Linked DNA regions of Homo sapiens: region 2 is linked to region 1. Evidence: fine-mapped expression QTL. A gene starts in region 1. The other region holds a variant in brackets. All regions are shown on one strand. Distances are from middle to middle. Region 1 holds the start of CNTNAP2 (contactin associated protein 2). Region 2 overlaps CNTNAP2 (contactin associated protein 2).

The links. PIP is the estimated chance that this variant, and not a neighbour inherited with it, causes the effect. A credible set is the group of variants that fine-mapping cannot tell apart.
Region 2: its variant is the best candidate, but not a certain one, in a credible set for the expression of CNTNAP2 in whole blood (TOPMed, PIP 0.52).

Annotation. Positions count from the first base shown.
Region 1 is chr7:146,114,327-146,119,714 of GRCh38, forward strand. CNTNAP2 (contactin associated protein 2) reads left to right here and starts at 2,475. Exons shown (of 24, transcript NM_014141.6): 1 at 2,475-2,647. The coding sequence starts at 2,551.
Region 2 is chr7:146,333,659-146,339,046 of GRCh38, forward strand. All of the region lies in intron 1 of CNTNAP2 (contactin associated protein 2), which reads left to right. Among named protein-coding and RNA genes, the nearest start is that of CNTNAP2, 220 kb to the left of the region's middle. The variant C/A (reference allele first, on the strand shown) is at 3,346.

The DNA.
Region 1 (5,388 bases):
TGGTGCAGGTATTTACATGTGTTATTAAATTGAGTTTTGTTGTTTCTCATTAGGAGAAATTACTACAAACTGATCAGAATGCTCTTTGGAGAAGAATACACCCTCAGGTATATCATTTTCTGTTACAAAATAATTAAATAGATGTCTATTGCATGTCTTTTAGTTTGGTAATCTGGGAAATGGAATTGTTTCAGTTCTGCTTGAGATACCCATGGAATAGCATTCATTGAGTTACTGAAATGGTAATACTTTCAATCGCTGCCTTTTTTCTTCTATTGAAAATACTTTAATGCTATGTTATTGGAGTTCAGTATGATAGTTAAAATGGAGAGGCATAGTTAAATAATAGATTGTTCTGAAAAGTTACGCTTTCTGACAGTTTTTTTTTTTCCTATGACTTGTTTCTTTGAGCTCTTAGAAATGGCTGATGGCAGTTCTTTACTGGAGTGTTTTGGCAAGTGGTCATTGACTTTTGACAGTCTGTGATAATTCAAACAGCAAAGGGACATTTTATAATCCATAAGAATGCATTTGCTGTATTATTTTACAGGAGGAGTATTTTATAGAATGAGGAGGCAGTTCACCTCCCATTAGTCATCTGTGTGTTTCTTCATTTTCCATATTGTACCCAATCTGCAGTTCTTACTAGGACAAAGCATCCTTTTAAATTAACAAGAAACAAAGATCAAATAAAAAGCGCTGAATCAGACCCATTAACACCATATTAATTATGCAGTGAATACACAGTACTATTTACAGTGGACCTTTCTAAGACCAAACAATGATGTTAAAAACTCAGTTTATTCCAGGATTAGGCAAGCCTCCATAAATTTTCTATTTATCTTTAAATGCAAATGCTTATTCATTGCATAACATCGAAAGACATGGTTACTCCTACTTAGTCCTCCACAAACATCATTAGATATTTAGATGACCAATAATTTTTAATTGTGTCAATAAAGTCAGTGGAATGCTTGGCTCTGCAGAGACATAAGAATTCAAATACTTTAAGTAGACTAGATGGAAGAAAAACATATGGAGGGTAGAGTGTGAAGAGCTGTGAGCTGGGGAGAAGAGCTTGATAATTATTATTAAAATTATCTAAATGTGAAAAAATCTAGGTCTCTCTAAACATTCTTAATTCTTAGTGCTTGCAATGCCTCAGGTACCTTGAAATAGTTACCCATATGCCTGCTTATGTATTTCCGTTTTGTGTTTGTGTTTGTATGCGTGTTTGCCTAAGTGTAGTTTCTCCTGGCAGCAGCGTGTGTTTGGTGTACGTGTGCATATGTATGAGTACGAATTAATTACATATCGAAAACATGTGCATTAACGGCATCTGCAGTCCTCCCTCCCTGCTCCAGTCAGTCGGGATGTTTAGCACCGTCACTTGGTGTTAGGACCACTCGGAAGACCTGCCTGTCGGACGCCTGACTGTGGTTCCCGGGGGGCCGGAGCTCCAGGAGCCTGTACCATCTTTATCTGAAGGGGAGGAGAGAAGGAAAGGAGAAGGCATCCGAGCGAGGGTGTTCTCCTTCCTGCAGCCGGGTAGGGGGCAGCCAGGTTTGGAGCAGGGTTCTAGGATTACACGGCAAATCCCCAACTTCAGCACCGCGGACAGCATCACCTCCCGCCCAGGGAGAGGCGCGCGCCTCCTTGCTCCGCCCCCGCCCCAGCTGATGGACCCCGGCCGGTCGGCTCAGTCTCCCTTTTGCTTTCAAACGAGGCCAGGGCAGGGCAGAAGGGTTTTGACAGCCAGAGGGGTACGGTAAGGAGGAGGAAGAGGAGGAGGAGGCGGAGGAGGAGGAGGAGCCGAGGAGGGAACCGAGAAGGGAAGAGAAGGGAGGGCTTCCCTCCGCCTCGCTCGCCGCCCGGGCTCACAGGAGCTGGCGGCGGCGGCGGCGGCGGCGGCGTCTCCTGCTCTCCGCGGCTGTTGCTGCTGCTCGCGCTCCGCCGCCCGGGAGATGCTTCCTCGCGCGGCGCAGCGCTGAGGCCGTGCGTGCGCCCCGGCTGCGCTGCGCGCTCCCCACATACACAAGCTCTCCATGTGAGCTGACAGGCGAGTGGAAACCCCTCGAGTCACGCTGCCCGGCGGCGGAGGGAGCGCTCGCCCGCAGTGGCAACAGCTGCACCACCGTCCCCGTCGCTCTGCCTTCCTCTTCTGCAGCCTCTGCTCTTCTGATTACCTCCCTCCCCCGTCCTTTGGTGATTTTTTTTTTTCAAGAAGGAGAGGGCGGGGTAGGTGTCCGTTCCCTCCCCTCTTCCCCCTCCTTTGCCTTCTTGGTTTGAATTTCCTCCCCCGGCGTTGCACTGGCACACAGTGCAAGAGGCAATACCCGCACGGAGGGAGAACGAAGGCTGAGACTCCCCTGCCGCTCCAAGCCCGGAAGAACTGGAGCCTGGAGGGGGGTGAGGGGAGAAGAGGAAGCGGGAGGGGCTTGGCTTCCTCGCGTATTTGAGGACAGCCCATCTCCCTTCAAGAACCCTACGGAGAGTCGGACTGCATCTCCGCAGCGAGCTCTTGGAGCGCCGCCGGCCGGGAGGCGAAGGATGCAGGCGGCTCCGCGCGCCGGCTGCGGGGCAGCGCTCCTGCTGTGGATTGTCAGCAGCTGCCTCTGCAGAGCCTGGACGGCTCCCTCCACGTCCCGTAAGTAGCCGTCTCCTCGCTCTGCTCTGGAGCAGTTTCAGTGCGGCATTGATGTTTGGCACCAGGGTATCAACTCCGAAGTGCATCGCAGTGCTGGCACCCTGATGTGTTTGTGTCTCCGCTGTCACACACTTGCAGCCACTGCAGTAGACAAACTCGAAACCCAGCGTTTCTGTTTTGGAAGAGACAGGGTTGTGACGCTGGTGATGTTTCTGGAAAGTTGTTCCTGGTCTTGGTGATCGGTTGGCAAGAGCTTGGCTAGAGAGACTGATGTAGATGGCAGCTTCTTAGGAGTTGTTTGTGCAGGGAGAGTTAACTGCATTTGGCTTAGGTAGGTCAGTGAATGAAAAGTGAAGACCATGGCAAAACCAAGTTTCTTATTTTTATTTATGGTTATAACTTAATGAGCACGGGGTTGAGGTTAACAAGAGGAGCATGTTTTAAACAGTTTGGGCACCTATAGGGTCTCTTTAACCTCTCCCGTTCCCTTAAAAAGTTAATGCCCATTTAGTACTTGCTTATTAAAATGGAAGGCAGCGAAATTGTAACTGAAATTGCTTTAATTCTTTGATACTTTGATATCATGGATATGACTGATGCAGTACGGTACTTGGGACACTCAGTGCAAAGCGTCGTTAATGTAGTAATAAACAGATTCTTAATAGGGTTTTCAGGAAAATAATTATATTCAATATGTATATCTCTGCATTTTAATCAACTGTGTGTGTGTGTTTGTGTGTGTGTGTGTTTAAGACTGCCCCTGTTTTCATGAGGTTTAGAAAGAAATGGAAGATTCTGGCCCATTTTCTGCATTCCTTTAGAAGTGCATACTGTGCATGTAGAGAGGAAATGCATGATTGTTCCTTTGGTTCAGAAAGAGTTAAACACTAGAAAGACTGCCTATAGGAATCTTAGGATAATATTCATAAGCGCATACTAGTTTCTGAGAATGAGTAAGTTGATAAAGAATTATCGTGGAGATTTCAGAGTTTAAAAGGAAGATTTTTTTGTCCATTTAGGAAAAGAAAAGTTTAATATTTTCCAGAATTCGTCATATGCGAAGTAGTCTTTGTTTCTAAGATTTTGGGATGTATTAATGCATCTTTGTTAATAATGATCTTATTGTAGTGGTAAATATCAACAGGAATAGCATTGAAAAAGGACATTATAAGTTGTAATAAGGAATCTACTATATAATATCCGGTTATGAGCCAGTATTACTGTTTTGACATATCTTCCTAAGTACAGTATTAGCTTTTCTTTTCCCACAATGTGTAAAGATAAGGAGATAAACTAACTGGCAATCTAAGTTTGTAATGAACTTGAAAACATTGTATAGCATTTTTTATAACACAAGTTAAATCACAAAGAGTTAAATATTGTTAATATTTATGTCAATTTTATAAATTTAAACAAATTTTGGGGATATAATGCTTGCTGTTGATATTTACACAAATATGTAACTCTATCACTGGGAAACTAGTTTGATGAAATTTCTGTTTCCATTTCAAGGTCTGGTTGTATAGAATTTCCTGCCACTTTTCCTGGAAAATAAACTCCTCATATATTAAATTTATTATATTCACTGATTGAAGGTCCTCATATCCAGGGTTTTTCCTGGGTTCTGTGTTCCATCATTCTGTATACTTTAATTTTGATGGGTCCATCTGAAACATCTGCCATGAGTAGCAAATGGAACACTGGCAGCCCTTGGGTTAATGCATTTTAAGATAAAAAAGTTGTTATTTCATAAATATTTTCTGAGTTTTCAACTTTATAGTTAGAATTTGAAGACAGAGAACATAGAAACAATTACTTTTAAGATGGTTAATAGTTATGGCCATTAAGATTTTTTATTAACTTGGCTTTCATTCTCTATTGTTTAAAAATGTGTAATGGCTTAATTAAGGTGGCTTTTTATTTCGTTTGAATTTAAACTGTGTGACCAAAATGCAAAGTTGCCCTATATCCTGGAAATGAATTAAATAATAAGGATGCTACAGAACTTTATTGATTAGAATGAGTTTCATGGATTCAGTACTTTAAATATCAACTGTACTTTACATTAATGAACATTTTTATTTACATTATATATAGCTCTGAAGAAAAGTATGATAGTTATATTCTTAATATAAAACATTCAAAGGAGAAAAAGATGGAAACTACATGAATCTAAGATAATGAGCAACTCAACCAGGAGAGGTCATCACAAGACAAAAAGTAGCATGAAAATCTAAAACTATCATTTTTCTTTGGTACACATTTTTAAAATGTGATGAGTATGCTAAAACTTTCTGTTCCTAAATACCTTTTTAATATGAGGGACAGAAGATGTTTATTTCACAACAACTGCATTTCAAATATGTATTTGCTTATGACTTATTTCTTTTTCTCTGTCGACAGACATATAAAAACTGTTAATACTATGTGTTGTACAAGCAGACTAGAATAAACTTGAAAACAAAGCTCATCACTATGGTTATGTAAAAATATAATCTAATTTCTTTGCAGATAGCGAAAATGAACTGCTGCTGAGCTGATGTAACAAATCGTGTATCTTCCCTTCCTGTAAATGTAGATACACGGGACACACGTGGGAAGTTTAAAGAAAATATTTCACTCTTAGGGAGTTGCATTTATTTGAACATATTATAAAGACCTTGATGGTGCAGTTCTAAATGATGAGGAGATTAAGCTAGCGCTTAATAAATTCACTTTTTAGAGTTAACTGAATTTTCACT
Region 2 (5,388 bases), 220 kb after region 1:
AAGTGTTAAAAAATAAATTCCTAAAGGTGTCATGGCTCAAACATGATAGAAAATTATTTCTTGCTCATTTACAAAACTGGTACTTTCGGTTGGTAACTCTTTTCAAAGCAATAATTCAAAGACTCTAGCTCATTTCCCCAATGTCTATGGAATCCTCATCATTGGCTTCTAGGATCACCATGCTTATCTGTACTAGACTGAAGAAATATGGAGAATTGTGCCTGGAAAGTTTTCAAGGGTCAGTCCTGGAATAAATGCATTTATTTAAAACTCAGTCACATGACCATACCTATCTGCCAAGGTTCCAGAAAATATAATCCTGATCCATGACTAGGAAGAAGATAAAATAAGTTTGATGAATAGTTACCCAGTCTCCACCATAGCAGAAGAAGCCCATTCTATTTGAGATTCAGAGATCGGCAAAATAAACTCAGTAGGCAAGAGGCATAGAGAAGGTTGGAAGTCCTATAGCAGCTTAATTAAAGCGCCCTGGCCGGGCGCGGTGGCTCACGCCTGTAATCCCAGCACTTTGGGAGGCTGAGGAAAGCAGATTAGGAGGTCAGGAGATCGAGACCATCCTGGCTAACACGGTGAAACCCCGTCTCTACTAAAAATACCAAAAATGAGCTGGGCGTGGTGGCAGGCGCCTGTAGTCCCAGCTACTCGGGAGGCTGAGGCAGGAGAATGGCGTGAACCCGGCAGGTGGAGGTTGCAGTGAGCCAAGATCGTGCCACTGCACTCCAGCCTGGGCGACAGAGCAAGACTCCGTCTCAAAAAAAAAAAAAAAAAGCATCCAATCAGTCTCCAACACTCAAGAATTATTTGTGAGATTCTTATAGAACTAAAATCTGTCACTAGCTAGTTCTCCTGTCTTCTTTCATGGCACCTGAGAGTTTGAAAAATAAAAGGTTATGAATTGTATGCATGCCATTTTTTTTTTCTGTATTGTATGCATGAAACCATCAAAGATGGAATTCTTTCTACCTGTAGATATCCATTTCTCCTCCAAGAGATCTCAGGTCCCATGACAATGTCACCACTTCTGCTCCTCCTCTGCAAGTGTAATGAAGAGGGTATTTCAGTGGAAGCAATGTATTACTTTCCCTCTCTTGGATTATGACTTGAAAGAATAACATTCACACATTTGTGAACCTGTTCATGCCCCACTTCAGTTATCAGTATTATTCCTCATTGCTTCCCTGCACATGTAGGTTAATATCCTCACTCACCTTTTCTATTCTTGCACCCCTTCCATGCAGGCAAAATGTTATACAGTTTTCAACCCTCATTGATCACATCCCAAACTCCCTCCACTTTGATCACTTGTAGTAGAGTCAGTGTCTCTCACCCATAAGACTTTGAGTTCTCATTAAACTGTGAAGTCAGAGCTTATTACATTTTTATCTTTGCATCCCTAGTACCTAGCAAAATGTCTGCCAGTGGCCAAATGCTCAGAAATTACTGGTAAATGATTTGAAGATTTCCACTGACTATGCTGGTCTACCCTGTTCTGAACTTCACATCAAAACCTATATGTTGAGAGTTTTCATTATGACAAAAATATACTGTGGTCAACATCTTGAATGTAGTGTTAGTTATGATGATATATACCGTTTCTAAAATTTCTCCATATGCACATTGAAAATGAATACATTTTATTACATGTAAATTCTTAAGAGATGTAATTTTAAAAAAGAGCTACTGAAATGCTAAACAAGACAGAAAAATGTCCCTCGAGATTCTTGCTATTGAGCTGACGACCAAATTCAGGCACTTGCAGAGTAGTTGACCTTCTCTTAAGAAGGAGCCCTCCTCTGTGCCCTCACTATAAGAAGGAGCCTCCCAACATTAGATTTTCTCTTGAAGAGCCCTTTGGACTGTTGTTCTGTCTGAGAGCTACTGGAGAATCTCTTTGATAGCTTTGCTTTTGACGGTTTTCTCTGGAGAAAGGTCTAATAGAAGCAAACAGTTAAAACCCTTTTCCATCCTTCACGTTTTTTAAAAAAAGTCTCCCTTTTAATATGATTTTCTAACTCTGTAGCTTCTTTGTGTCATTTTGTTCCTACAAGTGTTCATATATACTTTTAGGTCACATGCATTTCCACACACAATCTGAATGTTTCCTACACCATAGAGAAGGTGTTAGAGACTGGATACTTATACAATGTTATTTAGGGGTCGGGGAAGAGGGAGACTCTATTCCTTAAAACAAGGAACACAAAATTAAAAATATAAAACATGATATAAAAGTAAATATTGGCCAGGGCGCGGTGACCCACTCTTGTAATCCCAGCACTTTGGGAGGCTGAGGTGGGCAGATCACCTAAGGCTGGGAGTTTGAGACCAGCCTGACCAACATGGAGAAACCCTGTCTCTACTAAAAATACAAAATTAGCCAGGTGTGGTGGCACATGCCTGTAATCCCAGCTACTCGGGAGGATGAGGCAGGAGAATTCCTTGAACCTGGGAGGCGGAGGTTGTGGTGAGCCGAGATCACACCATTGCACTCCAGCCTGGGCAACACGAGTGAAACTCCGTCTAAAAAAAAAAAAAAAAGTAAAAACAATGTAAATATTTATCTATAGTGAGACAAGTAATCAAAACCAAAATATGGAGGCTTGGAGATATAGGTCCCTTTCTTCCAGGAGCTCTCGGTAATTTACTAGAAATGCTTCCACAGAAATACTTTTGATTTAAAGATAGATTTTTCTTTCACCCAGAACTTTCTCTAAGTTCTACCAAATTATCTCAATTTGATTGTAATTTAAATGGAAAACATAAAACTACAAACTTTTAGAATATAACATCGAGGCACATTTTTGAGCCCCAGGGCCTGCTGACATGTTCTTAGACATGATACCGAAAGCATAATCCATAAAGGAAAAAAAAAACAGAATTAATTGGACTTTATCAAAACTAAAAATATTTCATCTACGAAAGTAAAAAATGTATGTATGCACAACAATCTGTACATGATTGTTCACAGCATTTCTATTTTTAACGGCCCTAAACTGGAAAAACTAAAATACTCCTCAATAAGTGAATAGTTAAACAGGTTGTGGTACATCTATATCATGAAATACTGCTCAGCAAAAACAAAAGAAGACCTAACAACAAGAAGAACAACAAAAGTGTTGTTAGATGCACCAACTTGGATGGATCTCAAGGGCAGTATGCTGAGTGAAAAAAGCCAATCTCATAAGGTCACAACCTTCTTGAAATAAAGACAATACAGGGATTGGAAACAGATTAGTGGTGGTCATGGGTTAACCATGGCTGTAGTGCAGGGAGAGGATGGGTCTGAGATGGAACAGTTTTGCATTTAGATTGTGGTAGTGCCTATAC[C/A]TTACACATGTGATTAACTGATATAAACTATATACATATATTGTATCAATGTCAATTTCCTGGTTTAAATAGTGTGCTATAGTTACGTTAAATGAATTCATGGCAGAAACTTGATGAAAAGTACCCAGGACCCCCCTGTCTTTGCACCTTCTAGTGAATTCATAATTATTTCAAAATAAAAAATTTAAAGCTTAAATGTTAGCACTTACACAAGTGGATTACTTTATTACTTCTGGGATATGTACAAATTTGGGTCCTCTTAGTGTCTCCATGATTTTACATGAGGTTGTTCTAACATAAAAAAAAAAAAACAAACTACGTAAAGAGTGTTTTTAAAAGTGAGAAGAAACTACTGCTAGTTTGAGAAAGGGCTAGATCCTAATCAGTAAATAGAAAATCAGTTAACATTCAAATCATGTTTAATTATTTTATCTTGGAATGCACACGATTACTGTTTTATTTTTTACTTTTTAGAGACAGCGTCTAGCTCTGTCACCCAGGCTGGAGCACAGTGGCATGAACACAGCTCACTGCAACCTCCTCATCCCAGGCTCATGTGATACTCCAACCTCAGCCTCCTGAGTGGCTGGGACCACTGGAATATGGCACATACCTGGCTTTTTTGTTTGTTTGTTTTAATTTTTCTTGTAGAGATGAGGTCTCATTATGTTGCCCAGGCTGGTCTCAAACTCCTGGGTTCAAGCGGTTCTCCTGCTTTCCAGCCTCCCAAAGTGCTGGGATTACAGGTGTTAGCCACCACACCCAGCCTATGATTATGATTTTATTCATTAGTCTATGTACCAATATTTAAAAGAAGAATTTGTATCTTGCATGTGTGCACAATTATACCTTACACATAAATGAGTTTGAAATGGTAAAACGGCAAACCTCTAGACTATGACAGCCAAAGACAGGTATTTGATCCTTGAAAATAGAAAATAATATAGGCAATGACTTTTGCAAAATAGTGAGATATTTCCAGGTAACATTTATTCTGAAGGATTTGCTTTCCTATCACTGCAAAGATGGCCTTTTCAACCCTCTCACCATCATCTCATTTGCTGAGATGAGAGAGAGGAGAGAGGGGACAAATGGATATACAGATATATGGGGGCTGGGGGAGACAGAGAGAAACTGTGTTTTCTGGGGCAGGCATAGGTAACATTTACAGATACCTGTCCAAAGTACACACATATATTTCTATAGTCCTAGCATTGCACACGTATTACTCTAAAATGCTGGCATTTTCTGTCAATCTGCTTGGTAGCAAATGCTGAGGAACAAACCAATCACTGGATCTAGGAGCCAAGAACTAACAGAGACTCTGTGCTTTATGTGTGAGCATTTAACTACTGTAGATGGAGACCTGCACGTATTTAAATTGAATATCAGTCCTGTGTAAAGAGTGATTATTCTGATGCTTCTCCGCATCAGATATAAAGTTATATGGAGTCCAAAGACCATCAATAGAGGATTACTCGTAGCCCATCTAATTTTGGAAAACAATAGAGGAGTTTTCTGGTGTGAGGTGAACAGCCTGCTGTTTTCTTTGCCTGGAATGCATTTTCCTCCTCTTCCATGCTTCACCTCCACTCCCCTTACCTAGTTAATACCCACTCATGGCTCAACATTTGCTCAGCTGGTGTTTACCTACGAAGCCTTCTTATTCCTTAGATGAAAATAATTACCCCATGTTCCACTGCCCAGTCAGAGTTAAACAGAACTTCTTTTTTTTTATTTTTCTTTTTAAGAATATAGAGTCTTTAATGTGGTCAGAATTAAGTTGCTATCAGTTTAAAATAGCCTGTTACAAGTGTATTTTATATAAGCCTCATAGTAACCACAAGCAAAATCTATATTAGATACAGAAAAGATTTTTTTTTTAAAAAAGGTTTCAGGCCAGGCACTATGGCTCATGCCTGTAATCCCAGCACTTTGGGAGGCCGAGGTGGGTGGATCACCTGAGGTCAGGAGTTCAAGACCAGCGTGGCCAACATGGTGAAACCCCTTCTCTAATAAAAAAATACAAAAATTAGCTGGGCG